Homo sapiens: one gene and its partners. The protein of the gene in region 3 purifies or fractionates together with the protein of the main gene of each other region. This does not show direct contact. Each region holds a gene or a part of one and is shown on either strand. Other genes may lie near its edges.

Region 1 (3,987 bases), on a different chromosome or scaffold from region 3:
CCCAGACCCACGCTGGCCGTGGCCTGGAGACTGGCCAGATCCAGAGCCCTGTCGGCCATAGCCAGAAGACTGACTTGAGCCAGAGCCATGCTGACCGTGGCTGGAAGACTGACCTGAGCTAGCTCCATGTTGGCCACAGCTCGATGACTGTCCTGATGTAGAACCATGTTGCCCATGGGTAGAGGAATGACCTGAGCTAGATCCATGTTGACCGTAGCCAGAGGACTGTCCTGAGCGAGACTCTCGGTGACCTAAGCCAGAAGAGTGACCGGAGCCAGACTCATATGGGCCACGGCTGGAAGACCACCCTGAGCCAGACCCATATGGGCTGTAGCTGGAAGACTGCCCAGAACCAGACCCATGTCGGCCACGGCTAGGGCTAGGAGACTGGCCAGATCCAGACCCATGTTGGCCGTGGCCCAAAGACTGACGGGAGCCAGACCCATGCTGACCATAGCTGGAAGATGAACCTGAGCTAGATCCGTGTCGTTCACCCCTAGATGACTGTCCTGACCTAGAGCCGTGTTGTTCGTAGCTGGAGGAGTGACCTGAGCCAGATCCATGCTGAGTGTAACCAGAGGACTGCCATGAGCTAGACTCGTGGTGACCAAATCCAGAAGACTGACCTGAGCCAGACCCATGTCGGCCACTGCTGGAAGACCAACCGGAGCCAGACCCATGTTGGCCGTAGCTGGAAGAGTGCCCGGAACCGGACCCATGTCGGCCGCGACTAGGAGACTGGCCAGATCCAGAGCCCTGTTGGCCATAGCTAGAAGACTGACTTGAGCCAGAGCCATGCTGACCGTGGCTGGAAGACTGACCTGTGCTAGATCCCTCCTGGTCAAAGGTTGATGACTGTCCTGATGTAGAACCATGCTGTCCTTGGCTACAGAAGTGCCCTGAGCCACTACCATGCTGACTGTAAGCAGAGGAATGTCCTGAGCCAGACTCATGTTGACCAAAGACAGAAGAGTGACCCGAGCGAGACTCATATGGGCCACGGCTGGAAGAACGACCTGAGCCAGACCCATGTTGGCCGTGGCTGGAGGAGTGCCCCGAACCGGACCCATGTCGGCCGCGGCTAGGGGAATGGCCAGATCCAGACCCTTGTCGGCCGTGGCCCGAAGACTGACGGGAGCCAGACCCATGCTGACCATAGCGGGAAGACGAACCTGAGCTAGATCCGTGTCGTTCACCCCTAGATGACTGTCCTGATCTAGAGCCGTGTTGTCCGTAGCCAGAGGAGTGACCTGAGCCAGACCCATGCTGACTGTAACTAGAGGACTGCCCTGAGCTAGACTCGTGGTGACCAAAGCCAGAAGACTCGCCTAAGCCAGGCCCATGTTGGCCACTGCTGGAAGACCGACCGGAGCCAGACCCATGTCGGCCATAGCTGGGAGACTGCCTTGACCCAGACCCACGCTGGCCGTGGCCTGGAGACTGGCCAGATCCAGAGCCCTGTCGGCCATAGCCAGAAGACTGACTTGAGCCAGAGCCATGCTGACCGTGGCTGGAAGACTGACCTGAGCTAGCTCCATGTTGGCCACAGCTCGATGACTGTCCTGATGCAGAACCATGTTGCCCATGGGTAGAGGAATGACCTGAGCTAGATCCATGTTGACCGTAGCCAGAGGACTGTCCTGAGCGAGACTCTCGGTGACCTAAGCCAGAAGAGTGACCGGAGCCAGACTCATATGGGCCACGGCTGGAAGACCACCCTGAGCCAGACCCATATGGGCCGTAGCTGGAAGACTGCCCAGAACCAGACCCATGTCGGCCACGGCTAGGGCTAGGAGACTGGCCAGATCCAGACCCATGTTGGCCGTGGCCCAAAGACTGACGGGAGCCAGACCCATGCTGACCATAGCTGGAAGATGAACCTGAGCTAGATCCGTGTTGTTCACCCCTAGATGACTGTCCTGACCTAGAGCCGTGTTGTTCGTAGCTGGAGGAGTGACCTGAGCCAGATCCATGCTGAGTGTAACCAGAGGACTGCCATGAGCTAGACTCATGGTGACCAAATCCAGAAGACTGACCTGAGCCAGACCCATGTCGGCCACTGCTGGAAGACCAACCGGAGCCAGACCCATGTTGGCCGTAGCTGGAAGAGTGCCCGGAACCGGACCCATGTCGGCCGCGACTAGGAGACTGGCCAGATCCAGAGCCCTGTTGGCCATAGCTAGAAGACTGACTTGAGCCAGAGCCATGCTGACCGTGGCTGGAAGACTGACCTGTGCTAGATCCCTCCTGGTCAAAGGTTGATGACTGTCCTGATGTAGAACCATGCTGTCCTTGGCTACAGAAGTGCCCTGAGCCACTACCATGCTGACTGTAAGCAGAGGAATGTCCTGAGCCAGACTCATGTTGACCAAAGACAGAAGAGTGACCCGAGCGAGACTCATATGGGCCACGGCTGGAAGAACGACCTGAGCCAGACCCATGTTGGCCGTGGCTGGAGGAGTGCCCCAAACCGGACCCATGTCGGCCGCGGCTAGGGGACTGGCCAGATCCAGACCCTTGTCGGCCGTGGCCCGAAGACTGACGGGAGCCAGACCCATGCTGACCATAGCGGGAAGACGAACGTGAGCTAGATCCGTGTCGTTCACCCCTAGATGACTGTCCTGATCTAGAGCCGTGTTGTCCGTAGCCAGAGGAGTGACCTGAGCCAGACCCATGCTGACTGTAACTAGAGGACTGCCCTGAGCTAGACTCGTGGTGACCAAAGCCAGAAGACTCGCCTAAGCCAGACCCATGTTGGCCACTGCTGGAAGACCGACCGGAGCCAGACCCATGTCGGCCGTAGCTGGGAGACTGCCTTGACCCAGACCCACGCTGGCCGTGGCCTGGAGACTGGCCAGATCCAGAGCCCTGTCGGCCATAGCCAGAAGACTGACTTGAGCCAGAGCCATGCTGACCGTGGCTGGAAGACTGACCTGAGCTAGCTCCATGTTGGCCACAGCTCGATGACTGTCCTGATGTAGAACCATGTTGCCCATGGGTAGAGGAATGACCTGAGCTAGATCCATGTTGACCGTAGCCAGAGGACTGTCCTGAGCGAGACTCTCGGTGACCTAAGCCAGAAGAGTGACTGGAGCCAGACTCATATGGGCCACGGCTGGAAGACCACCCTGAGCCAGACCCATATGGGCTGTAGCTGGAAGACTGCCCAGAACCAGACCCATGTCGGCCACGGCTAGGGCTAGGAGACTGGCCAGATCCAGACCCATGTTGGCCGTGGCCCAAAGACTGACGGGAGCCAGACCCATGCTGACCATAGCTGGAAGATGAACCTGAGCTAGATCCGTGTCGTTCACCCCTAGATGACTGTCCTGACCTAGAGCCGTGTTGTTCGTAGCTGGAGGAGTGACCTGAGCCAGATCCATGCTGAGTGCAACCAGAGGACTGCCATGAGCTAGACTCGTGGTGACCAAATCCAGAAGACTGACCTGAGCCAGACCCATGTCGGCCACTGCTGGAAGACCAACCGGAGCCAGACCCATGTTGGCCGTAGCTGGAAGAGTGCCCAGAACCGGACCCATGTCGGCCGCGACTAGGAGACTGGCCAGATCCAGCCCCATGTCGGCCATAGCCAGAAGACTGACTGGAGCCAGAGCCACGGTGGCCATAGCTGGAAGACTGGCCTGTGCTAGATCCCTCCTGGTCAAAGGTTGATGACTGTCCTGATGTAGAACCATGCTGTCCTTGGCTACAGAAGTGCCCTGAGCCACTACCATGCTGACTGTAAGCAGAGGAATGTCCTGAGCCAGACTCATGTTGACCAAAGACAGAAGAGTGACCCGAGCGAGACTCATATGGGCCACGGCTGGAAGAACGACCTGAGCCAGACCCATGTTGGCCGTGGCTGGAGGAGTGCCCCAAACCGGACCCATGTCGGCCGCGGCTAGGGGAATGGCCAGATCCAGACCCTTGTCGGCCGTGGCCCGAAGACTGACGGGAGCCAGACCCATGCTGACCATAGTGGGAAGA
Region 2 (3,987 bases), on a different chromosome or scaffold from region 3:
TTACGGCTCACTGCAGCCTCCACCTCCCAGGCTTAATTGATTCTCCCACCTCAGCCTCCCGAGTAGCTGGGACTACAGACACACGCCACCACGCCAAGCTAATTTTTGTATGTTTTGTAGAGATGGGGTCTTGCCATGTTGCCCAGGCTGGTCTCAAACTCCTGGGCTCAAGCAATCTGCCTGCCTTGGCCTCCAAAAGTGCTGGGATTACAGGCATGAGACATGGCTTGTGGCCACTAATGCTCTATTTTTGTCACTCACTCACTGCATCTTTCTCCAGGGCCGCCTCTGCTCCAGGCACTGTCCTGGGTGCTTCTACCCTTGGCCAAACCAGCACATTGGCTTCTGTTCATGTGCTGCTTGCTTTTTGTCATCTGACAGGATGTCAGCTAGGCTTTTCAGCAAGGGTCATAATACATGTGATGTGACGATATGTTAAAAGTCCAGCCTGCAAATGCCTGTCACCCTATTTCCATCCCACTGCTGGGCACACCACGCACATCTGGTGCTCATCTCAGGGGAGTCAAGGAATTCCAGGCTGGTTTTCCTAGCCATGAACATGTTAGCTACCGTAGTCAGTGTGTAATTTCATGAGATCTGAAATATAAGATTGCCCTAGTTTTCTGCTTACAATCTGGTTCTTGTGCCTGGGTGCAGGTTTCCATCGTGTGGGAAGAACGGAGTAACGAGTCTCACGCAGAAAAAGGTCTTGAGAGCACCTTGTGGCGCACCCAGTGTAACTGTGACGGTAGGTGATGCACTCACGTAGCAGCCCTCTTTGGTCACCTTGCTAAAAATGCTTTTGCACACCGTTTCTAGGAGGTGCCTTACCCTGCTGGGCACCATCGCCGCCCAGTTGCTCTGCTAGGTGCTGTTATACATACTCTGCTGATTTTTAATTATGATCATCATTTTTGCCTGTGGTGAGGCTGCCGGGTGTGAGGAAATTGTCTTAGACTTATTCTTCCAGCCAAATCCTAAAATCTTGAGATTTTTAAAATAAAGGAAAAGAAAAAGAAGAGAAAAAAAAAGTTTAAAGAATGAGGGGAAGGATAAGAGCTGGTGGTGGTTGAGGGGTTTGTAGCTGTGGTTCTGCCTTGCTCATGTTTTCTTTAGAATCTAGACAGCCTTCTCATCCTTAGGATTTCCTTCAGCTTTCTGTTTTCCTGTTCTTTGATCTGCCTGCTCTCTGATTTATTCTGCACCCTGAGCATTTTGTGTGTTTCCCACGCCAATCTGCATGCCCAGTTGAGATCACTGTGTAGAAGGATCCGCCTGCTTTCCGCTGTGCTTCACTAAATCCAAGGAGGAGCTGTGCATTCCAGCAGGTTTAGAGGAGATCCAGCCCTAAGAACCCTGGGGCCGGCGTCTGGGATCTGTTCTGGAACGGGTGGGTCTTGCAGACCCTCTCTTGAGTGGACCAGAATCTCCCTTGTGGTCTTCTGCTGGGATCTCTGCAGGAGCCTGCTGAATGATACTCCCGCCTTACTCCCTGCCTGCATGCCAGTAGTTGGTAGCTGTCCTGCTCGCTTGGTGGCTAGGCTTTTTGGTGGCCCCCAGAGGCTGTGAGCTCTGTTTTTATGCCCAGTTTACTCATCCACAGATCAACCATTTTTGTGTTGTCCTCCCCCACCTGCCAGAAGCCAACCATGAAGGACCGCTCTTCAACTCCCCCCTTACATGTTCACGTGGATGAGAACACCCCTGTCCACGTCCACATAAAAAAACTCCCGAAACCATCAGCGACCAGCAGCCAGGTAGGAGCATGCCAGTGGGGCGAGGTAGTAGCTGTGGATCTGGGTGATCCTGCTAAGCCCAGCCTCCTCGCACTCTGACTCCAAAGGTTTGGGAGACAAACACACTCTTTCGGAGGCCGGTTTCCTGGTTAGAAGGTAGGCAGGCCTGTCATCCAGGAGCAACAGCAGTAACATTAGTCAGAAGAGGCACTCTGCTAGTCGGAGAGGGATGTCACTAGCGTGGCACCGTGGCCAGCTGGGTGTGGAAGTGACCCTGGGTTTGTCCCTTTCCACAGAAATCTCACAAGCGAGGAATGAAAGGGGACACTGTGAATGTGCGGCGGAGTGTCCGGGTGAAAACCAAGGTACCTTGGATGCCCCCTGGAAAATCATCTGCCCGGCCTGTGGGATGCAAGTGGGAGGTAGGCTCACCCTTGCCCAGGCTTTTCTTCTCGGACTGCTCAGATCCTAGCAGGCCTCAGCCTCGGTATGATTCAGGGTCAGCTATAGCTACTGGAATGTCCTAACAGACCCCATTTACTGAGGGCCTTGCTAAACCCTGAAACTATGTGAATCTTCTTGAGTTCTTATGATACTGCTGTGTGGGAAGTCCTGCTGTCCAAAGGCAGAGATGAGGAACCAGACCTCAGAGAGAAGTGATTTTCCCAGAGTCACAGAGAAGTTAGCAGAGCTGGAGTTAAGATTCATTCTAGAGGCAGTACTCTTAGCCTCTCTGCTTTGCTTGTGAGGAGCCACATCACATGTATTTTCTTTTCTTTTCTTTTCTTTTTGAGACAGAGCCTTGCTCTGTCGCCCAGGCTGGAGTGCAGTGGCATGATCTTGGCTCATTGCAACCTCTGCCTCCCAGGTTCAAGTGATTCTCCAGCCTCAGCCTCCCTAGTAGCTGGGACTACAGGCGCCCGCCACCACTTACGTCTGATTTTTAAATTTTTAGTAGAGATGGGGTTTCATCGTGTTGGCCAGGCTGGTCTCGAACTCCTGACCTCAGGTGATCCGCCCGCCTCGGCCTCCCAAGGTGTTGGGATTACAGGCGTGAGCCACCACAGCCAGCCTATTTTTCTTATAGTTTATTACATTAGAAATCTTTCATACCAGCAGTGAAAAGAAAAAAAAATAGAAATGAAAAACAAAAGTAACTCCTTGAAGTTTATAGTCATACCTCATAAAACTATGTCAAAACTGACTCCTTGATTTACCAGACAAAGGAGACTCCTTTCCCTTAGAGACAAAGGGAGTATGGGGCTTTCTTAGGATTAAATGGAAACTGCTCTGACCAGTACAATAAATTAAAAGGATTGAAATTAGACTGCTGCCTTACATTTTTTACTACATATACTTCACTAATAATCAGTGAAATGTAAATTAAAAGCCACAGTATATTTTTTTTAAAACAAAAACAATGAGCTTTTTTCTTGAATGGAAAAAGTTTAAAAAATGACAACTATCTCCTGCCAGCAAGCATATGGGATATCAATGAATCTTTTTTTTTTTTTTCCGAAATGGAGTTTCGCTCTTGTTGCCCTTGCCCAGGCTGGAGTGCAGTGGCGCGATCTTGGCTCACCACAACCTCCGCCTCCTGGGTCAAGCGATTCTCCTGCCTCAGCCTGCTGAGTAGCTAGGATTACAGGCATGCACCACCATCCCGGCTAGTTTTGTATTTTTAGTAGAGATAGGGTTTGTCCATGTTGGTCAGGCTGGTCTCGAACTCCCGACCTCAGGTGATCAGCCCACCTCAGCCTCCCAAAGTGCTGGGATTACAGGTGTGAGCCACCACACCCGGCCCGAATCTTTTAAAACGTTTTTTATAGGACTGTGAACCTGATTCAGCTGTTCTGGAGTCAGTTTGGCAGGACTTGTCTAAACATTGATTCTGTAATTTTTCGTCTAGGAAGTTGTCCTAAAAACATCATAGAAGAGTACAGGGATTTTGTTTTTTTGTTTTTTTTTTTTTGAGACGGAGTCTCGCTCTGTCACCCAGGCTGGAGTGCAGTGGTGCAATCTCGGCCCACTGCAAGCTCCGCCTCCCGGGTTCACACCATTCTTCTGCCTCAGCCTCCCGAGTAGCTGGGACTATAAGTGCCCGCCACCATGCCCGGCTAATTTTTTATGGTAGAGACGGGGTTTCACCGTGTTAGCCAGGATGGTCTCGATCTCCTGACCTCATGATCCGCCTACCTCAGCCTCCCAAAGTGCTGGGATTACAAGTACAGGGATTTTTTGTAGATTTTTT
Region 3 (3,987 bases):
GTTTAAGTTTGTTTCAGAATAAAAATATAGACTGGGCAAGGTGGCTCACACCTGTAATCCCAGCACTTTGGGAAGCCAAGGCGAGCAGATCACCTAGGGTCAGGAGTTCGAAACCAGCCTGGCCAACATGGCAAAACCCTGTCTCTACTAAAAATACAAAAATTAGCTAGGCGCAGTGGTAGGTGCCTGTAATCCCAGCTACTTGGGAGGCTGAGATGGGAGAATCGCTTAAACCTGGGAGGTGGAGGTTGCAGTGAGCCGAGATCACACCATTGCACTCTAGCCTGGGTGACAGAACGAGACTCTGTCTCAAAAAAAAAAAAAAAAAAAAAGTATATATATACACACACACACACACACACACACTTTGTAAAATACTTGATTTAATTTTGAAGTATGAGGGTAGAGATGGAATGTTGGGTTATCAGCAGCCACAGGGAACAAGGAGGCTGGTGAATTGATAGTCCACGATCCAGCCTGCCTATGGTGGGGGTGAGGGTGGTACTATCCTTTAGCCAGTTGCATTAGGCTTGACTAGTTTTTATAAGATTTCCAATTGCCATCAATTTATATGGAGTTTATACTCTAAAGCAATAACACTGATTTTGAGAAAGAAAAGGTAATTTCTGCTTAATACAATAAATGAGAAATAATTGAAGAAATAATTTCTTTGGAAAAGAATGCTTCTTTATTGATGGTTATATTTATCAGCAAGGATCATGACTCAGTAGCCAGTTGAAGGAATCAGAACACTTTGGGTACATGCTGCTAAAAGCCCGTCAGCTCGTCATCCTTGTTTTTGTCAACCTGGTATCCAGTAAGTACCAAGTCCTCATTTTGTCCGGGAAGACTTTTGAATACTTTCAAGTGCATATATTTATTATCACCTGCTCGTACCTGAAAAATATTAAAGAAAGAGAAAGCAAAAGGAGATTCATTCAAATGGGTCTACATCAAGTGAGAGAGCCACAGGTCTACAAAGACTTCTGTCCAAAAAGCTGCTGAGGAACAGCATTGCTAGACCTAGTCCACCATTCTTAGACTCTTTGTATTCATAAATCCACCACCTTATTTTAGGAGAAAAAGAGCAGACTAGGCTGGGTGCCGTGGCTCCCACCTGTAATCCTAGCACTTTGGGAGGCTGAGGCAGGGGGATCACGAGGTCAGGAGTTCAAGACAAGCCTGGCCAGCATGGTGAAATCCCGTCTCTACTAAAAATACAAAAAATTAGCCGGGCATGGTGGTGCATGCCTGTAATCCCAGCTACTCTAGAGGCTGAGGCAGGAGAATCACTTGAACCCAGGAGGAGAAGGTTGCAGTGAGCCGAGATCATGCCACTGTACTCCAGCCTGGGTGATAGAGCAAGAGTTTGTCTTAAAAAAAAAAAAAAATTGTAGACTAATGGCATGGCAAGAGGCATAGGTCCTAGGTTTATTTTGTTATTTTTTTTAGTATAATCTGGGCACAAAGGACAGCATTTTATTTTCAAAGATGCATGGAGCAAGAAAACAAGTGATAGCCTATATTTTTGGTGATACTGTTTTCTGACTCTCAACTTGGGACACTTTGTTTGCCATACAGTCTGATAAGGGAGAAGAAAATCAGAATTGCCCTAGAAAATTTGGGATGCAGGGTTCCCATACCTATATCAGAACCTACTTTATAAACACCCACTGGTAGGATTGAGCAGAGCCCAGGGGGCGGACACCCTCCCTTCTAAAGTGAAGGGGCCAGCCGGGCACTGTGGCTCACGCCTATAATCCCAGCACTTTGGGAGGCCAAGGTGGGTGGATCACCTGAGGTCAGGAGTTTGAGACAAACCTGGCCAACATGGTGAAATCTGGTCTCTACTAAAAATACAAAATTAGCTGGGTGTGGTGGTGCACATCTGTAATCCCAGCTACTTGGGAGGCTGAAGCAGGAGAATCGCTTGAATCCGGGAGGTGGAGGTCGCAGAGAGCCGAGATTGTGCCACTGCACTCCAGCCTGAGTGACAGAGTGAAACTCCGTCTCAAAAAAGAAAAGAAAAAAAAAAGCTAAGGGGTTTTACTAGGAAGTCATTGGTAGGAAGGTTGAAGCAGAAGCAGTAGTTTGGACATGAATCTGAGACCTGGAAAATTATGGTAAGAATTTTTACTTTGGTTCTTGCTGGAGACAATAAATGCTTTGTCTTATACAAATATTTATTGTGCTTCTGATGTCACTTCCTATCCTAATTTTAACAAATGCCATATATCAAATGTTTACTGTGAGCCAGACACTATGATGAACATTTTATATAAATGATTATATTAACCTATATTATAGGCCTGAAGAAAAGTGGAGCAATGAAATTTTTACAGACGTGGAAGCAGAGTAGGAGAGATTAAGTGATTTTCCATAAATCTCTCAGCTAGTCAGTGGCACAGCCAATATTCAAACCCAGATCTGTTAGCCTCTAGCATCTACATTCTTTTCACTCTACAATGTAACATTTTTGGGGGGTACTGATCGGGGAATGAGGCCTGGCTCACAGTGCAGTGGTGCGATCGCAGCTCACTGCAACCTCAAACTCCTCGGCTCAAGTGATCCTCCTACCTCAGCTTCCCAAGTAGCTAGGACTACTGGTGTGCATCACCATGCCTAGGTAATTAAAACATTTTCTTTGTAGAGGCAGGGTCTTGCTATGTTGCCCAGAATGATCTCAAACTCCTGGCTTCAAGCTATCCTCCCACCTTGGCCTCCCAAAGTGTTCGGATTACAGGTATAAGCCACCACACCAGGCCAGTGTAACCTTGTAAAAGCTCTTATTTTGTGCTTTATATTAGAGGCAGCACAGCCAGTAGTTAAGCTCAGTCTATCTGGGTTCAAATCCTGACTCTGCTCTTGTAGTTGTGTGATCTTTTTAGTTTCTTCACCACCCTGGAACTCAGTTTTTTCGTTGGTAACCCAAGAGAAGTGATTGTACTTATCTCATAGATTTGTTGTGAGGATTAAATGAGATAAGCCCTGTTCTTAGAATAGTGCATAGTGAATTATAAGTGCTCAATAAATTTCCAGCTTATTTATTCCTCACAACACGCTGCGAAGTAGATTATTACCCTCATTGTGCAGATAAGGGAATGAAGGCTCAGAGAGGAGGAGGAGCTTCCCATAGAACAAATTGAACAAGGGTTCAAACCCAGGACACTCTGACACCTAAGCTTGTGGTCCTTCCATTCTACCACCTACCTCTTGATAGGTACTTGAAATACATAGAGAAGGTCACATCACTGGCAAGACCTTAAATCTAGAGTGCCTCAGAGCAAAGGGATCAACAGCCAGACTACCAGGAAGTAAAAGGGAACTGGGATCGGTGGCTGAGATCCAGTAGGAAAAGTTTGATAGCAGAAGGAAGAAAAGATGAGAGAGAGAGAGGAGACTGATTAAGAGAGGGCAAAAGGGTGGTCAAGGGAACAAATTTTCAAGCAGAAATTTTCAAGATAGTTATCTGATGAACTGTTGAAGAAACATGTGAGCTGGTAATATGTGAAATTTATGCATTTGAATTAATCATAAATTATTAAATATGTTAATGTTGATGGAATGTTTCCTATCTTTGCACATAATCATTTTTAACTGGAAAACTTTCTTTTCCAGCCATGAAGAAAGCAGATTGAGAATGGAGGAAATGGTGCCATTGTTTTCTGAGGATACAGCAGGGTCCTCTTTCACATGTGTCTCCCCGGGACCTGGTCGTTACTAGGAGCTCACATTTGGCAGAACAGGGCTGATCTGTGTACATAGCTCTGTACTGAAACTTTCTTATGCTGAGCTGACTAGCTCCACTTACTTCACTTACTTTTTTTTTTTTTTTTGCTGAAAAAATCTTTTAAAATGTTTATATTTTAATAGAAATATTTGTTAAAGAGAAATAAGCCACACTGTGCCCTGGTCAAATAGTGAAGTAAAGATTAAGTAAATATACTTGAATATTTGTTTTTATTTTTAAAATCAGCATTATCATCT
Region 4 (3,987 bases), on a different chromosome or scaffold from region 3:
TACACAAAGATTACTATAACAAGTTACAGTAATGCTATAAAACACACAATTTGGACAAAGTCTATATAATCAAGGATCATAAAAATCTGTGCCTCATAGGTAATTTTATATATAGGGTGAGAGAAAAAACAAAGCTTGGACATTTCTTCTAAGATGTATAAATAAAAACTAAGATGCAAACAAACCATTTCCATCTTTGAATGGAAATAGTTTCTGTGGTTTCACATTGAGAGAGTATGTTGAAGAAGAAACTCAATTTTTTTTTAATTCTCTCACTGAACACTATCAACTGTCAACACAAAAGACTTCTGTGATCAAATGCATGTGGGTTTTTCCCCACAAATCAAGCAAGCAACCAATTTCACAGTGAATACTAGCTGGGTGTCCTCCAATCCAGTTTTGACACTGTGTACTTAGAGATGGCATCAGATCTCACAGGCTGAGGGCTCCGTCCCACAAAACTGCCCCCTACTTCTCATGCCAATTGAAAGCCCTAGGTTGTTTACCTGTGCTTCTGGCCAACCAGCTATAATGTGGGGATCCTATGACACCCTCCTTGGGTTCAATTAATTTGCTAGAGTGACTCACAGAACTCAGAGAAATACTAACTAATGTTTAGTGGTTTATTATAAAAGATACTACAAATGAAACAGATGAAGAAATGAGTAGGGCAAGGTATGGGGGAAGGGGCACACAGCTTCCATGCCCTCCCTGAACACGCCACCCTCCAGGAACTTCCACTTGTTCAGCTATCTGGAAGCTCTCTGCACCCTGTCCTTGTGAGCCTTATATGGGGACTTCATCAAATAGGCACAACTGACAACCATGTAGAGATGTGACTGGACATAAAGGGAATGATGTAAACACAGCAAGGCCTGTCCAGATTCTTCTGAGCCTCTCTCTGTTCAGTGTTCCTTCCTTTAGGGTATGACACAGGACATCTTTGGAAATGAAGGTCTTATGACCCAAGATCAGAAAGGCAGGAGAAGATTAGAGTGCTGCCCTGGGCAGGTGAGAGGAGGGCGGAAGAAGATCAGAGAGAGAGAGAGAGAGAGACTCTGTTTTCTGAGGCCTACTTCTGAGGCCTAATGTGCCCCAACGTTAAAAGATAGTGACAAGGGCTATGGGAGTTATGAGCCAGGAACTGTGGACAAAATCTAGTATGTGTTAACTAGTTGTCTTGTTTAAACCTAAGAATATACTAATATAAAGGATAAAAAAGAAATTTAAGTTTGGCAGCATAATGTAATTTCAGGGCATATGATTTTATCACTTACTATCTGTGTAACATTTGGCAAGGAACCTAACATTACAAAACTACAGTTCACTTCTATTAAAGTGGGTATAATCATGCTTACCTCAAAGGGTTGTTATGAAAATTCAATGTAATAATGGGTAACAAGTGCTTAGAACAGTGTTTTTCTCTGATAAGTCCTTAATAAAATGGCAGCTGTTATGAAGATAACATTCATATCATTAACAGGACTAAATAAGATGCTGATACAGTTTAAAGCAATTATCTGGCACAAAACAGTCATTACAATATTAAGTTCCTTTTTTCTACCATCCTATAAGGCAGAGATTTGCCCATCATTGCACACACAAACAAAACAAAAACAGTGTGAGAACTGAGGCTTAATGATGTTGTCAAAGGTGTTTGACCCAGAGCAACTCCATCTTGAATAGGAGCTGGGTAAGATGAGGCTGAGACCTACTGGGCTGCATTCCCAGACAGTTAAGGCATTCTAAGTCATAGAATGAGATAGGAGGTCAGCACAAGATTCAGGTCATAAAGACCTTGCTGATAGAACAGACAGGCTGCAGTAAAGAAGCCAGCTAAAACCCACCAAAACCAAGATGGCGATGAGAGTGACCTCTGGTCTTCCTCACTGCTACACTCCCACCAGCACCATGACAGTTTAAGAATGCCATGACAGGCCAGGTTTGGTGGCTCACATCTGTAATTGCAGCACTTTGGGAGGCCAAGGTAGGCAGATCACCTGAAGTCAGGAGTTCAAGACCAGCCTGGCCAACATGGCAAAACCCTGTTTCAACTAAAAATACAAAAATTGGCTGGGCATGGTGGGTCATGCCTGTAATCCCAGCTACTTGGGAGGCTGAGGCAGGAGAATCATTTAAACCCAGGAGGCAGAGGTTGCAGTGAGCCAAGATTGCTTTACCGCACTCCAGCCTGGACAACACAGTGAGACTCTGTCAAAAAAAAAAAAGAATGCCATGACAATGTCAGGAAGTTACCCTCTATGGTCTAAAAAGGGGAGGCATGAATAATCCATCCCTTGTTTAGCATACAATCAAGAAATAACCATAAAAATGGACAACCAGCTGCCCTCAGGGCTGCTCTGTCTATGGAGTAGCCATTCTTTTATTCCTTTACTTTCTTAATAAACTTGCTTTCACTTTGCATTGAGGACTCGCCCTAAATTCTTTCTTGCACAAGATCCAAGAGCCCTCTCTTGGGGTCTGGATCAGGACCCCTTTCCAGTAACACTGTGAAAATGAAGAGAGAGCAAGAGGAGTCTGGGGGATAAAAAGGTGAGAATTACAAACATTTTGAGTACAAGATACAGGATTGGCTCTTAATCTTTTGGCCCACATTCTTTACAAATCTAGTGAAAGCTCTAGATTCAGAAATGCTCATAAACAATAAATGCTGTCTGTAATTTCAGCAGTTTCAAAGACTCCCTATATCTCAAGTTAAGAATCTTTGAGAGTTTCTATTACGTCATTGGATTCTTAGAACAGAACTAATTTATAAACAAAAATGCTAGTGAAAAATCAGGAAGCCAGATTATAATATCTGCTTTCATATTTCCTACTTCACTCAATTCCATCTCCTTATCTTAAACCTTCTATAAAGCTTTAGTCATGAAAACAGTCCTTCATAAACCCAGCCCTTGTCTAAAACAAAAGTGGTTGGCTGGAGGGAGAAGGGAGCTTTAGCAGGAGTCCTCAGAAACATAGCATATGACACTTGGTAAAGCAGCTGTGACTGAGGCTCCCATCTTTCAGGCAGGAGCCACAGTCTCCCTAGGCTCAAGTGCTAACACTCCTCCTCTTGATGCTTGTTTGGATTTTTGTTGTTGAATAGATCTCAGCTTCCTGTCTCATGCAGATACATTAAGACACATTAGGACTTCACTTTGGTGAATTTGAGAAGGGGATATGATATGCTCCGTTTTCCAATTTTGATTAACTAGAGCATTTCACAGACAAGAAATTCTCTAGAATAAACTTGGAGAAATACTGCAAAAGATTCTTTTAAGAAAGGGGTAGAATTATGGGAGGATGCCATCAGTTGGACAGGAAAAACCTTCACATAGTCTCACAGTTGAAAAATGCCACACCTTAGCATTATTAGTCTGCAGATGAAAAAGTTAGTAATGTTGATATGGACAGGAGACAGGGAAATACTGGGTAGAAGAGGGTGGTCCCTCAGCAAAGGCCCCACCCTCAAGCCTGAAGACCTAAGGCCCTAAGAGAAGACAGGCATTTCTGTTTTCACACCAAAAAAGGTGCCTTTTGGCCCGCCATGCCCCCCATCCTTCCCCCATATAAACCCAAAATCTTAGCAGGCACAGATACAAGGAGCTGAACATCCAGAGGAGCAGAGGAACAGAGCGGCACAGAGCTGTGGAGAGTGGTGGGACAGCACAGCAGAAAAGGAGGGAAGAGGTATTTGAACCCAGAGGAGAACAGGAACAAGTGGACTCCAGGGGAAGAACACCTTTCCCCTCCATCCTCCTTCTCTGGCTGAGAGTCGTCTCGCGGAGAGCCACCTCCACCACTCAATAAAACCTTGTGCTCATCCTTCCAGCCCACGTGTGATCCAATTCTTCTGGTACACTGAGCAAGAACTTAGGCTGTCACATTGGACCCCTGCCCTTGCAATAAGGCATGGGGTCTAATGACCTGATTAACACAAGCCATCTGCAGACGGCTAAGCTGAAAGAGCACACTGTAACACAT
Region 5 (3,987 bases), on a different chromosome or scaffold from region 3:
CTCTGGTCCCAATGGTCGTAAATAAAGGCTAAGCGCTGGATTTTTCCATGGCCCCCTGACTCCTCAGGAGCGCAGGCAGAGGAGGTAAACAGGAGGCCAGGTTACCCATGAGATGACCAGAAGCTCATCCAGGGCCGGGACCCTGGTTCATCTCGTGAATTCTTGGCAGCGGCTCCAGGCTGGGCACATTAGATGCTGTCATGTGACTGGCCTGGTGGCCACCTCTTGGTTCTCTGGAAATGTGTCCACTCTGTGCTCAGGGAAGAAGGCTGCCGTCCTGACCTGTCAGCCACCAGGCCCTCTCTGAACTCCTCACTTGACCCGGAGGCATTGGGAGCAAACACAAAGCTCGCCCCTGGTGTCAGTGGTGCAGACAGAGGAAAAGCAGAGGGTCCGCAAAATGCAACTCCTCCGTGGTGAGACTTTGAAAAGGTGTAGAGTGGTTGCAGACAAACAGCAAAGGAGTGGAATGGAAAAATCTCTCTTGCTCCCCACAAGAAGTCCACTCCCCTACGGATTCCTCAGATGCCACTGGCTGGCACAGCCTTTCCCGCCCTTGGTGTGGGAGCAGCAGAAGTCCAGCGGGGGTGGGAGAATCATCGGGGTCAGGTCAGTGTCTCCCTCGTCTGAAGTCAACCACTACTTTTCCCTCAAGCCTACCAAAGAGCTAAAGTCTGATCTGTAGATGTCTGATGGTTTGAGGAGAAGAAAAGATAGTCTTTTAGAGAAGTGGGGAGTATCCAACTTAGGGTCAAAATACACTGAGATTAGGCCGGGCACAGTGGCTCACACCTGTAATCCCAGTGCTTTGGGAGGCCGAGGCGGATGGATCACTTGAGGCCTCCAGGAGTTCGAGACCAGCCTGGCCAACATGGCGAAACCCCGTCTCTACTAAAATACAAAAAATTAGCTGGATGTGGTGGTGGGTGCCTGTAATCTCAGCTACTCAAGGAGGCTGAGGCACAAGAATAGCTTGAACCGGGAGATGGAAGATGCAGTGAGCCAAGATCACGCCCCTGCACTCCAGCCTGGGCGACAGAGACTCCGTCAAAAAAAAAAAAAAAATACATTGAGATTACCAGGTGGGGTATGTGTGGTTCTTCCAGGAAAGTGCTGAAAATATCACCCAGGCCTCTGCGCCACGCCCTGGGAGAGTACACTCCTGGGCTCACGCCTCTGCATTCCAAGGCTGACAGCTAGAAATATACTTTGTAAAATACCAACAACTTATTCACAAATATTCCAACTATCTACCAGCTCCAATGAGCTTGCTGAGGATGGGTATGACCCCAGTCTAAGGGGAAAGAATCTAAAACACAAGTAAACCTGTTTAAAGGCCAGATCTCCAGATGGAGATCCAAGCAGATGGCGCCTAAGGTTTGCCCTTGAAAACTACCAAGGAAGCCACAGAGAGGGATCTTTGGACCTTCTGGAAAATGGTAAGGCCCCAGGTAGATTATGGCTCCTCTGCCCTGGAGGCTGAGCCGCCCCTCTGGTTACCTCACATCTTCTGGTTTCTTCTGAGTGGGACTTGATCTCATTTCTGCATTCACAGCAAGGTGGAACTGTCTGGCAAGAGCTTAAATTAGGACCTGTGGTGGGGACTTTAATAGGCAGGTGGAGGTTTGAGATCCAGTGAGATGCCAGAGATTAGTCAATAGGTGAGGAAAGATTTGGCCCAAATCAAAAGAGCTAAAAAAAAAATAATAAAATAAAAATAAAAATAAAATAGTTGAACAAATAAGGTTCATGAAAAAAAAAGAAAAGAAAGAAAAGGTAAAGAAAAGAAATCCATGATAAAATATCAAACTTTTTAATAAAAACAAGTCTGGCCCTGTACTTGGATGACCCCACCTGGCTTGTCTAACCCTAATCCCAGCCCCAGTTTTAATAAAACTGTATTTACAAAATAGGCAGCTGGGACGTGGACCAGAGATACCAATTTGATTTTTTTTAAATATTACATTAAAATATTACATCATGTGTCTTCATTACTGAGTTTTGGGGTAGCCCTTTAAATTTTGTATGCAAGGTGAATACCTCACCCCTCTCTCCTGGCCTAGAATCTGGGGGATCCTCCTGTCCCTCCCACAGTGCCTGATAGCACAGCCTGGGGCTGGTGGTGTGCCTGTTTGCCTAGCTTTATCTCTCCAGATACTATTTGGGGTGTGCTGTTCTAAGAAGTGATTAGGTTAGCTTTTGCATATTAACAAACTACCTCTGAAACTTAGTGGCTTAAACCAACAAATGTATTAGCTTTATAATGATTTGGATCAGTGATGGGGGCTGGGCACGGACAGGCGATTCTTCTGCTGGGCTTGGCTGAACTCAACTATGTCTTATGGTCAGAGGGCAGTCAGGGGCTTCGCTCATGTCTGGTAGTTGGCTGTTGGCTGAGCCCTTGGTTCTCCTCTGGCTTAGGCTTGTTCACATGGTGGCCTCGGGGCTCCCATGGCAGTTAGAGAAATCAAGCCCAAGTCTCATATCACGTTCACTATTCTCCCATTGTCCAAAGCAGACCACATGGCCAAGGCCCAAGTCTGTGTGAAAGGATGTGGATACAGGGACCCCGAATGAACCAGAGGCAATACTGCTGCAAGCTACCACATAGATGCTGTTCAGAGCTTTGCAGGACCAAATCTTTTAGGGCTGTTTTTCCATTGTGGTATACCCTCTCCATTTAGATTCAATTGAACAAATATATTCTTTGGGGCTGCAGTGTGTCAGATGTGGAGACATGGTCCCACTGGCTTTCAAGTTGCCATCCATCTTCTAGGGAGAATTTCTGGCCTTTTCGGATGGCATGGTCCAGGCCGGAGCACCAGCCCCAGGTTGAAACATCAGGCAGGTTTCTAGGAAATGGTTGCAAAATTAGCAAAAAGTCAGGGCTACAGAGCCCTATCCAGAGTCGTCATCTTAAGGTGTCTACTAAAGCCTGGGGGTGGATGGGATCTCAGAAGGGGGACTAGAGAAATAGGAAACTGGGGACAGAACCCGGGGGTGAGAAAGAAGACAGCAGGTGTTGTGGGAAGTCAGGGACCCCAAACGGAGGGACTGGCTGAAGCCATGACAGAAGAACGTGGATTGTGATGATTTCATGGACATTTATTAGTTCCCCCAAATTAATACTTTTGTAATTTCTTATGCCTGTCTTTACTACAGTCTCTAAACATAAGTTGTGAATATTTCATGGACACTTATCACTTCCCCAGTCAATACCCTTGTGATTTCCTATGCCTGTCTTTACTTTAATCTCTTAATCCTGTCAGCTGAGGGGGATGTATGTTGCCTCAGGACCCTGTAATAATTGCATTAACTGCACAAATTGTACAGCATGTGTGTTTGCGCAATATGAAATCTGAGCACCTTGAAAAAAGAACAGGGTAACAGCAATTGTTCAGGGAATAAGAGAGATAACCTTAAACTCTGACCACTGGTGAGTCGGGCGGAACAGAGCCATATTTCTCTTCTTTCAAAAGCAAATGGGAGAAATATCGCTGAATTCTTTTTCTCAGCATGGAACATCCCCTGAGAAAGAGAATGCACACCTGGGGGTGGGTCTCTGAACTGGCCCCCCTCCCCCGGGGGCGTGGTCGTCTCTTATGGTCGAGGCTGCAGAGATGAAATAAACTCCAGTCTCCCATAGCGCTCCCAGGCTTATTAGGAGGAGGAAATTCCCGCCTAATAAATTTTGGTCAGACCGGTTGCTCTCAAACCCTGTCTCCTGATAAGATGTTATCAATGACAATGGTGCCCAAAACTTCATTAGCAATTTTAATTTTGCCTTGGTCCTGTGGTCCTGTGATCTCGCCCTGCCTCCACTTGCCTTGTGATATTCTATTACCCTGTTAAGTACTTGATGTCTGTCACCCACACCTATTCGCACACTCCCTCCCCTTTTGAAAATCCCTAATAAAAACTTGCTGGTTTTTGTGGCTTGTGGGGCATCACGGATCCTACCAACGTGTGATGTCTCCCCCGGACACC
Region 6 (3,987 bases), on a different chromosome or scaffold from region 3:
TGTAGGAACGGAGGGAGAAGTGGAAGTCAGTGGCTTTCACTTGTGGCTTCCCTAGTCTGACTTCTGCTCTGGATAAGAGAAGGAAAAAAAAGATCCAAACACATATTTCAAATCATATACTTCATACATATTCATATATTTCATATATTTTACCACAATTGCTATGGCTTAAAGGGGAAATAAATAAGTATATGTCAATAGTATTCCATGACCATATATTCCAACTTATTTCAAGAAAACATTTAGAAAAAATCAGTTATTTAAATGACTATTTTAGAGTTTCATATATGTAGACACAAGCCAAATAAGTTATTTAAAAATAAAATTTAAAATTAAGAATCAAAATAAACAATATTGGCTTTCTTAATTGCCAAACATAACCTCTGTTAACATTCAAAACTTGTAATTTTGCCCCCCTCCCCAACCCCCAAGAGCTGAATTGATATGACCCTGAAATATAGCTCCACCCATGCCTCAACCATTAGAGTCAGAGCAACTTGGCTGATAGGAGCTGTGGTTAGAGGAAATTTTCAGTGTATAAGCACTATGGATGCTGCCCATCCCTCAGCATTTACCACCTTCTGGCTTATGAAGCATTCGCATAAAAAGAGAGTAACAAAAAAGTTCCTTAAGAGGAATATTTATTTATGAGGGGCTTTTGTATTAAATGTTTGGATTTACATATTTACTACATATGTAAAAATGTGTATTTTATGTTATTTTTAAGATTTTTTTTTGTATTTATATTTTGAAGTGCTTCCAGTAGTGAAACCCAAAGTAATAACACTGTATGTACAGGGAATATGGAGAGGCTTTCAACTTCAGTCCAAGAACCAGTAGGAACATTAGTTGACAGTAATAGACTCTCAGTTGAGCTTACATTATAGGTGGGTAAACAATAACACAAAATAATTTCTGGCAGGTTCTTCTTCCGTCTCTCTAAAATTCCACTCTAGAGAGTTATTCTTTTGATTTAAAGCTTTATCTCTTCACGAAATGAAATTTGAGAGCTCACAAGGTGTTTACATTTTAGTATAAATGAGTTAATCAGTTCTATCTTCAAGTTTCAATCAGACAGCGATGAAGGGTGGAGGAAGTACTGTCACCTGAAGAGAGGACTACATGGGACAGGTACCATCAAAAGGGAAGGCTAGGGTGCAAAAGCTCTGCCACAACTCCAGACTAGTTTTATCCTGTAAATATTCAGATATTTTCCCAATACCTTCCCCATTTTGAAATCCATAATTTCGATTAAAGGAACAAATTTGTTTCATAAAATATTTTCCTAAAGCTTTTCTCATATCGTACAGAATCAATAACAATTTCATATGCTTAGGCATAAACAGCCTTTCCCCTTGAGTAATACAACTGTAAAATTTAAGATATACCATGTCATTATTCTCATATTTAAAATCTACTCCAGAAATCTAAATCCATATTTTTGATGATGAAATATTTAGAAATAAGAGAAATTTAAAACATTTCATGTAAATACCACACCCTCTGTAGTTAACTGACCCACTTCATTTTATCTGTCAATGTCCAGGTCCTGGGCAGCAGATTGTACTGAATGTTGTGACAACAGAGACCAAACCTCAGCAAGTAGAACACAAGGGAATCTTGAGCTCTAGAACTTTGGATGGTTTGATATTGTATTAATTTGCATTAAAAGTGAAAGTAGCATTCATGAGAGGTAGCTAAAATGAAAAAAATTTAAACAAAAAAATGTTTCTTGAACATTTGTTTCACCTCTTACTGTGTTGGTTGAAGCCTTTGTACAGAGTGTATGAAGAGTTCATCAATATTTTCTGAAAAGTTAAAACAATGTAAAGTCACTCCTAAAATGTGTACAGTAATTCCTGAAGTTTGATATTATTATAAATTGAAAAACTCCCTTGTAAATGGATGAAAAAATTATTAAAAAATCCTAGTTTTCCCTTACATTCATTTGTTTAAAATAAAAAAAGTCATGGTAAATTTAGAAATTTTTTCCTACCTGAAGATTCGAAGAGACAGAACTGCCTCGACTGGAGTCATTTTGCACAACTGGAAGTGAGTATTTCTCCTCATCTGATGACATTCTGCACAAATGCTCTAAAACAGTAGAAGCTAACTTTAGCTTTTTTCCTTGATATTTAAGATAAAATCCTTTCCAGATATATATAAGTGCAACAGTATCCAAATCTGCAATCTTCCTGTGATATGCTAAAATCATTCATTCAACATATTGAGTACCTACAGGCAAAAAATCACTGGGCAAAAAACAGTTGAAGACCCAGTCCCAATATTAGTGAGTTTATAACGTAGTCAGGTCTTCAGAAAAATCCCCAGCGGGGCCTGTTGAGCATAATAGATTGTGATCACTGTTCTTGAGCAATGTGTGACAACCTGGGTGCTGTGTACTTTCCTCTAAGACACAGAACCAAGAGAGAACAAACAATTTGTGCAAATTCCCTTCTTGGGAAACTTACCTTTGGAAATATTATTTTAAGAAAAGTGAGCTTATACAGAACAACAGAATCAAATATATGCATAGAGAATTTGTTGAAAGTCCTAATCAAAAAATCATTAAAAGTACTTTTAGTAACAAGTAACCGAATTATTCAAAGAACAAATAGTGACTATTCGAACTATCTGAATACCAGTAATATGTAAGACATTGGTGAGGAATGTAAAATGAAGTCCTCATTCTTAAGGAGTTTACAATCTGTAGAGAGGGCCAGGCATGTATATTATATAAGTGACCGACTGATGAATAAACTGCTGATAGGCCCTAAAATAACAGATACAAAGTAGAGAGATAGGAGTAGCTATTTTTCATGGGGTAAGATTGCATGACTGTAAATAAGCAGGAAAGGAGGCACAGAAAGTTTTTAGAGAAGATGACCCAGGTGTTGAGATCTGAAAGATGAGTAGGTCTCATCCTGAAAGATGGATAAAAGGTATAAACACAGGTGTAGATATTCTAGGCAGTAGAGCAATATAAGCAAAGACAGAGCCATGGACATGTATGCCACGAACAGCAAGCAGTTTGGTAAGGACAAAGCAATGGGTGCAAAGGATTGGCTAAGGATGAAACAAAAAGTAAGGAGCAGCCAGATCATGGAAGGTCAAAACTTGTCATATTAAAAATCTGGGTGTTTATTCTAGACAAGTTATTGAAATATTTTTTAAAAGTTACATGATCAGAAAGATCATTCCAGCAGCGTTGAGGATGAATTTGGATATTAAGAGAGATCAGGCTGGGTGCAGTGAATCATGCCTGTAATCCTAGCACTTTGGGAGGCTGAGGTAGGTGGATCACCTGAGGTCAGGAGTTTGAGACCAGCCTGGCCAACATGGCGAAACCCTGTCTCTATTAAAAATACAAAACAATTAGCCGAGCCTGGTGGCAGGTGCCTGTAATCCCAGCTACTTGGGAGGCTGAGGCAGGAGAATAGCTAGAACCCTGGGGGTGGAGGCTGCAGTGAGCCAAGATCGCACCACTGCACTCCAGCCTGGGTGACAGAGACTCCGTCTCAAAAAAAAAAGAGAGAGAGATCAATTGAGAGCTGACTGCAGTAGTCTAAGAGATAAATGTTCTCTTTGATAGTAATTAAGAAGATAAATGATGACCTAAGTCTAGGAAGTAGCAATGGGAAGGGGATGGAGGGTATGACTACAAGACAGTTGTGTTATGGTGATGGAAAGAGAAAATGATCAATAATAGATCAAGGGGTTAAAAAGAACTGTTGGTGGCTTCCAGATCTCCGGTTTGGGTAACTAGATGGATAGTGCCACTCACCAAGGCAAGGAAGGTAGGAAGATGAGCAGGTTGGGAGGAAGGACAATGAGTGCCATATCAGATGAGCTGGGTGTGAGGATGCCTCTGAGGCACTAGGGTAAAGCTGCAAGTATGCAGTCTGTGGTCACACTGGCTACGTAGTGCGCTACTCCAAGAACTGCCATTCACAATGGCTACACTGTGAATGGTGTTTCCTGGAGTTA
Region 7 (3,987 bases), on a different chromosome or scaffold from region 3:
GATTATAAGATCTCTTCCTACTGTGAAGAAATATTATGAGGACAACCCCTAGTTTAGGGTCAAGACTAATAATCAAATTATAGGCATTTGAATCTTGGCTGTCGCTTAGGCCTGAAGAACATGGCAGACATTGCTACCTGTGTAGCCAAGGGCTGGCCCTGCAAGGTACATCCCTTATAGCACTAGACACAGAAGCCACAATACGCAACGCCTTCATCCTCACAGTGGAAGGCCAACAAATAATTACTAAGTGGCTGCCATAGTTAAGACCCTGGGTGAGGTACAAAGACAGTTAAGAAAAGATCACTGTGGTGATTTACACTTCCACATCTATCATCTCATTTATATTTGACTCCCACAGCCACCCCGAGTGGATAGGTTGGGCTGGAATCGTTTTTACAACTTCCCTAGACTGACATTTCCCCAAGTCATCTAACTAAGAAGGGATACAAAATCAGTGTTTGGATTTCCAGTGCTCCTCCCACAGTGCTGCGGGGGATACCCCCATTGCCTGAAAGCTCCCCTGTGCTACCTGCAAGCCCAGGCTTATACCTAATGACTGCTCATATAGGGCCTCTTCCGGGAGGCTGCCTCTGACCCCTCCACCCCAAGGCACAGCTCGTGGGTTCCTCGGCCCTTCTAGAACTGTACCTGCCCTTAACTGCATTCCAATTAAACTCTGAGTCTCTGAGGACCAGGACCAAGTCTCATCCATCTTTGTATCCTCAATGCACAGTGACACACTCTACATACTCAGAAAAGCTGGCGGAATGCAAACATTGAACCACACACTTGTGGCTGGCCTGAGAGTTTTATAAGGAGATTTGTAAAGCAAAAAGAATAAGTCAGGAGTGAGTAAAAATTCAATAGCTGGGACACCCTGGCACTGATCAGTCAGGGACGGTGGCTGTGAGTGAACAGAGATTGCACAGCGGATCGCCACAGAAAGTCCTAATGTAGGTGCAGGTACAAGCCAGAACTAGTGTTTGCTGGTTTCATGAAATACCAACCCACACCTGTGTTCTGGCTCTACTGCTCGTGGGCTGTGTGACCTGTGGCAAGCGGGGTAACCTCTCTGGGCTTCAGTGCACTCTTCTGTAAAAATGGAGGAAAAACAGGCCTCACTTCACAGGGTTGTTGTGGAAACTGTGTCATAAGGCAGCCTCAGCGTTTCAACCTATGCTGGGCATATCTAGTCAATCCTCATTATTTGTGGATTCTGTATTTACAAAGTCATCTACTCGCTGAAATTTATTTGTAACCTCCCAATCAACACTCGCAGCAGCTTCAAGGTCATTTACGACAAGCACAGAGCCTGATGCAGAGCTGAGGCCAAAGAAGGAGCGCCCTCCTTCCTTGCTTCAGCTGTCGTACTAGCTACACGTTTCCTTTTCACGGGCTATTTATTGCCATGCTTTTTTGCATTTTGGTGCTTCTTGTTGGTGATTTCAGTGTAGTGCTGAAGTGCTGCCTAGCGCTCCTAAGCTCTGGAAGGTTGTGATGTGCTTTATGGAGACAACACGTGTGTTAGATATGCTTTGTTATTGGTCAAAAAATGGTATTAAAGGCCATTAAAGAAAAACACATCACTAACCCCAGTGAGTATAAATGCAGAAATTCTTAATGTGGCAAGAAACTAGTTAATTCTACCAGTTGCAAGCACCATGCTGCGCTGTGGAACTTTACACAATACAGAAACTGTGGCCTCTGTACCCCTGAGGAACAGAAACCCAAATGCCCTCCAAGACACCTGCATAACCTTCTTGCTTAGAGCTCGAGGGACCTGAGCCTTGAGCAGCTCGGGAATGGGTCGCTGGGGGCAGTGCCTACTGCAAAGCCTTGATCAGAGACTGAAGCCGTCAGAGGGAACTATGACTCAGTGCTTTGACATTGAATAAAGACACTGTGTGTCAAGAGACACACAGACGTCTAAAGTCTACCAGGGCAGCACCAACATCATCAATCAAAGGGCACCGTCCATCTAGAGGCACGGTCCATCTCTAGAGGCACGAGAAGCCTTATTTCTCCCTGCAAGGAGGCTGACTCTGTCAAAAGAGGCTCAAGGGCTGAGTGTGGTGGCTCACGCCTATAATCCCAGCACCTTAGGAGGCAGAAGCAGGAAGATCACTTGAGGCCATGAGTTTGAGACCAGCCTGGGTGACAAAGCGACACCCTGTCTTCATTTAAAAAAATCTTTTTAAAAAAAGAGGCTCAAAGAATCACCCTGTGCAATCAACCAGCAGCTGTGCCAAAGCCCTTCTCTCTGCTTCCTCCCACCCGCTTGATATGAGTTTTTTCCAAAGGGAGACAATACTGAGATCATCCTCACCGAGAAGAAAGTGGACTCGGTATAAATCAGATTTCTGGAGCAGCCGCCGCAGCTTGGCCTGCGTCTCGGTGGCCTCTGCACCCTTGCCACTGGCGGAGGCCCTCTGCAGCAGCACCTCTTCCAGGTACAGCACAGCTAAGTGGGTGTGATACTCTTCTTTCTGCAGGAAACAGGGGGAGCCAAGCAGACAGACAGTGTTTTCAAGTGGGAAAGTCAAAGCTCTCCCCTGTCAGCCAGGGCTTGGAGACCGCGGCTGCACTGACATGAGCTGGGCAGATGCTCACTTGCTGGATCGAAACCCTCTCAGAAACCATGATACTGAGATGAGTTTACCATCTATGGGGAATAGAACAAAATGTCACCTCTTATTTCAAGAAGTAAGGGCCACAGAATTTAGATAACCTACAAAAAGGTATAGCTCCCTTTATTTCCTTTAAGGATAATAACAAAGAAGGAAAAGAGAGGAAAAATAAAAGCTGAGTGGGTGTGAGACGGACGGAGAAAAAAATAAAGCTACCTATTGCTCCAGGTCTCTTTCCGCAAGCCTCAAGGCCGCCATCAGACCATCAACAAGTACGGATGGATCACCCAGGGAACAGACATTACACAGAATCACATGCCAAAAAGTGTTCTAGTTCAATTCCGTCTCTCCAGCCCACACTCTTTAGTCTAACTTCTGCAGTGCTCACCTGCAGTCTCTTGTCTATCACAAGATGTTCCAGATACTTCACAAGGGCTTTAGGGTATTTTTTAAGGCAATTGATAATGTCGTCTGGATTAAAACTGTTCTTCTGCTGTTCATCCAAAGGTCTCTTGGTGAAAACCTGAACTCCGACCTGAAAGAGGAGCGACAATACAGTGACTGTGCTTCCCAAACCCACCTTTCCTTTAACTTTATTTTGGTCATTGCACATTCAAGCTTTGGATAAAATCATCACTTAAAATATGATTAAATTATTATGTATGCACAGCTTTTTGTATGTCAATCATATCTCAATACAGTGGCTTAAAAAATATAATTATGGAGAAAAACAGCCCAGCATGAAGCACTGTCAAAGGCCAGAGGGCAAAAAATCAAGATAGAAAAGCCAGCCTATACCCTGAAGTCCTCCTCACACACCCCATGCAAATTGGAAACTGAAGAACAAAGCATTTACTGGTGACAGATTTTGACAACCTATAATAATAACATTAAGATCATCCAAGAACAGGGATAGCCAGTTGCAGAACAGTATGTGAAAAGATATCAAAAGTGCTGAAATTTCTGTACAGTAAACTCACTTCTCTGAACATGGATTATCTACTCTGGGTTATTTATGATAGATGGTTAATCTGAGATCTGAGCTTCCAGTCCCTGAGTAAGTTTCCGGGCTGCCTTCCTGTGTCCATCAAGTGGAGGCACTGGTCCAATCCTCTGGTTCAAGGAAAGGACAGTGAGGCAGGCAGGAAAGCAGCTCTCCACTGCACCTCCCCTGAGCACTTACATGTGGGAGGTTCTATCATGTGCACGCACACACGCACCTCCCCCCTCCAAGGCCAATACATTCACGTATCATGTATTATGGTATGAATTTTGGATTCTATAAGCCTGGATTTGTGTCCCAGCTCTACCAACTATAGCCTCAGTTTCCTCATCTGTAGCTAATGCCCACTGAGGG

Evidence for each region.
Region 1: the proteins of CSTA (region 3) and HRNR purify together in Homo sapiens (affinity purification with mass spectrometry; one large-scale study listed by BioGRID and IntAct). This does not show direct contact.
Region 2: the proteins of CSTA (region 3) and ODF2 purify together in Homo sapiens (co-immunoprecipitation; one large-scale study listed by IntAct). This does not show direct contact.
Region 4: the proteins of CSTA (region 3) and CTSC purify together in Homo sapiens (affinity purification with mass spectrometry; one large-scale study listed by BioGRID and IntAct). This does not show direct contact.
Region 5: the proteins of CSTA (region 3) and ARMC9 purify together in Homo sapiens (co-immunoprecipitation; one large-scale study listed by IntAct). This does not show direct contact.
Region 6: the proteins of CSTA (region 3) and POC5 purify together in Homo sapiens (co-immunoprecipitation; one large-scale study listed by IntAct). This does not show direct contact.
Region 7: the proteins of CSTA (region 3) and TGFBRAP1 purify together in Homo sapiens (affinity purification with mass spectrometry; one large-scale study listed by BioGRID and IntAct). This does not show direct contact.

Annotation. Positions count from the first base shown.
Region 1 is NC_000001.11:152,213,997-152,217,983, forward strand, and holds part of HRNR (hornerin), read right to left. Parts: coding exon 1-3,987. UniProt on the Homo sapiens protein: Component of the epidermal cornified cell envelopes.
Region 2 is NC_000009.12:128,458,910-128,462,896, forward strand, and holds part of ODF2 (outer dense fiber protein 2), read left to right. Parts: intron 1-657; coding exon 658-748; intron 749-1,248; exon of another isoform or gene 1,249-1,390; intron 1,391-1,603; exon of another isoform or gene 1,604-1,640; coding exon 1,641-1,757; intron 1,758-2,032; coding exon 2,033-2,158; intron 2,159-3,987. UniProt on the Homo sapiens protein: Seems to be a major component of sperm tail outer dense fibers (ODF).
Region 3 is NC_000003.12:122,338,349-122,342,335, reverse strand, and holds the end of CSTA (cystatin-A), read right to left. Parts: intron 898-3,987; coding exon 769-897; 3' UTR 367-768; downstream 1-366. UniProt on the Homo sapiens protein: This is an intracellular thiol proteinase inhibitor. Has an important role in desmosome-mediated cell-cell adhesion in the lower levels of the epidermis.
Region 4 is NC_000011.10:88,302,880-88,306,866, forward strand, and holds part of CTSC (dipeptidyl peptidase 1 isoform a preproprotein), read right to left. Parts: intron 1-3,987. UniProt on the Homo sapiens protein: Thiol protease. Has dipeptidylpeptidase activity. Active against a broad range of dipeptide substrates composed of both polar and hydrophobic amino acids. Proline cannot occupy the P1 position and arginine cannot occupy the P2 position of the substrate.
Region 5 is NC_000002.12:231,372,847-231,376,833, forward strand, and holds part of ARMC9 (lisH domain-containing protein ARMC9), read left to right. Parts: 3' UTR 1-3,987. UniProt on the Homo sapiens protein: Involved in ciliogenesis. It is required for appropriate acetylation and polyglutamylation of ciliary microtubules, and regulation of cilium length. Acts as a positive regulator of hedgehog (Hh)signaling.
Region 6 is NC_000005.10:75,710,858-75,714,844, forward strand, and holds part of POC5 (centrosomal protein POC5), read right to left. Parts: intron 2,095-3,987; 5' UTR 2,081-2,094; coding exon 1,997-2,080; intron 1,804-1,996; exon of another isoform or gene 1,750-1,803; intron 1,576-1,749; exon of another isoform or gene 1,528-1,575; coding exon of another isoform or gene 1,519-1,527; intron 1-1,518. UniProt on the Homo sapiens protein: Essential for the assembly of the distal half of centrioles, required for centriole elongation. Acts as a negative regulator of centriole elongation.
Region 7 is NC_000002.12:105,270,526-105,274,512, forward strand, and holds part of TGFBRAP1 (transforming growth factor-beta receptor-associated protein 1), read right to left. Parts: intron 3,166-3,987; coding exon 3,019-3,165; intron 2,490-3,018; coding exon 2,330-2,489; intron 1-2,329. UniProt on the Homo sapiens protein: Plays a role in the TGF-beta/activin signaling pathway. It associates with inactive heteromeric TGF-beta and activin receptor complexes, mainly through the type II receptor, and is released upon activation of signaling.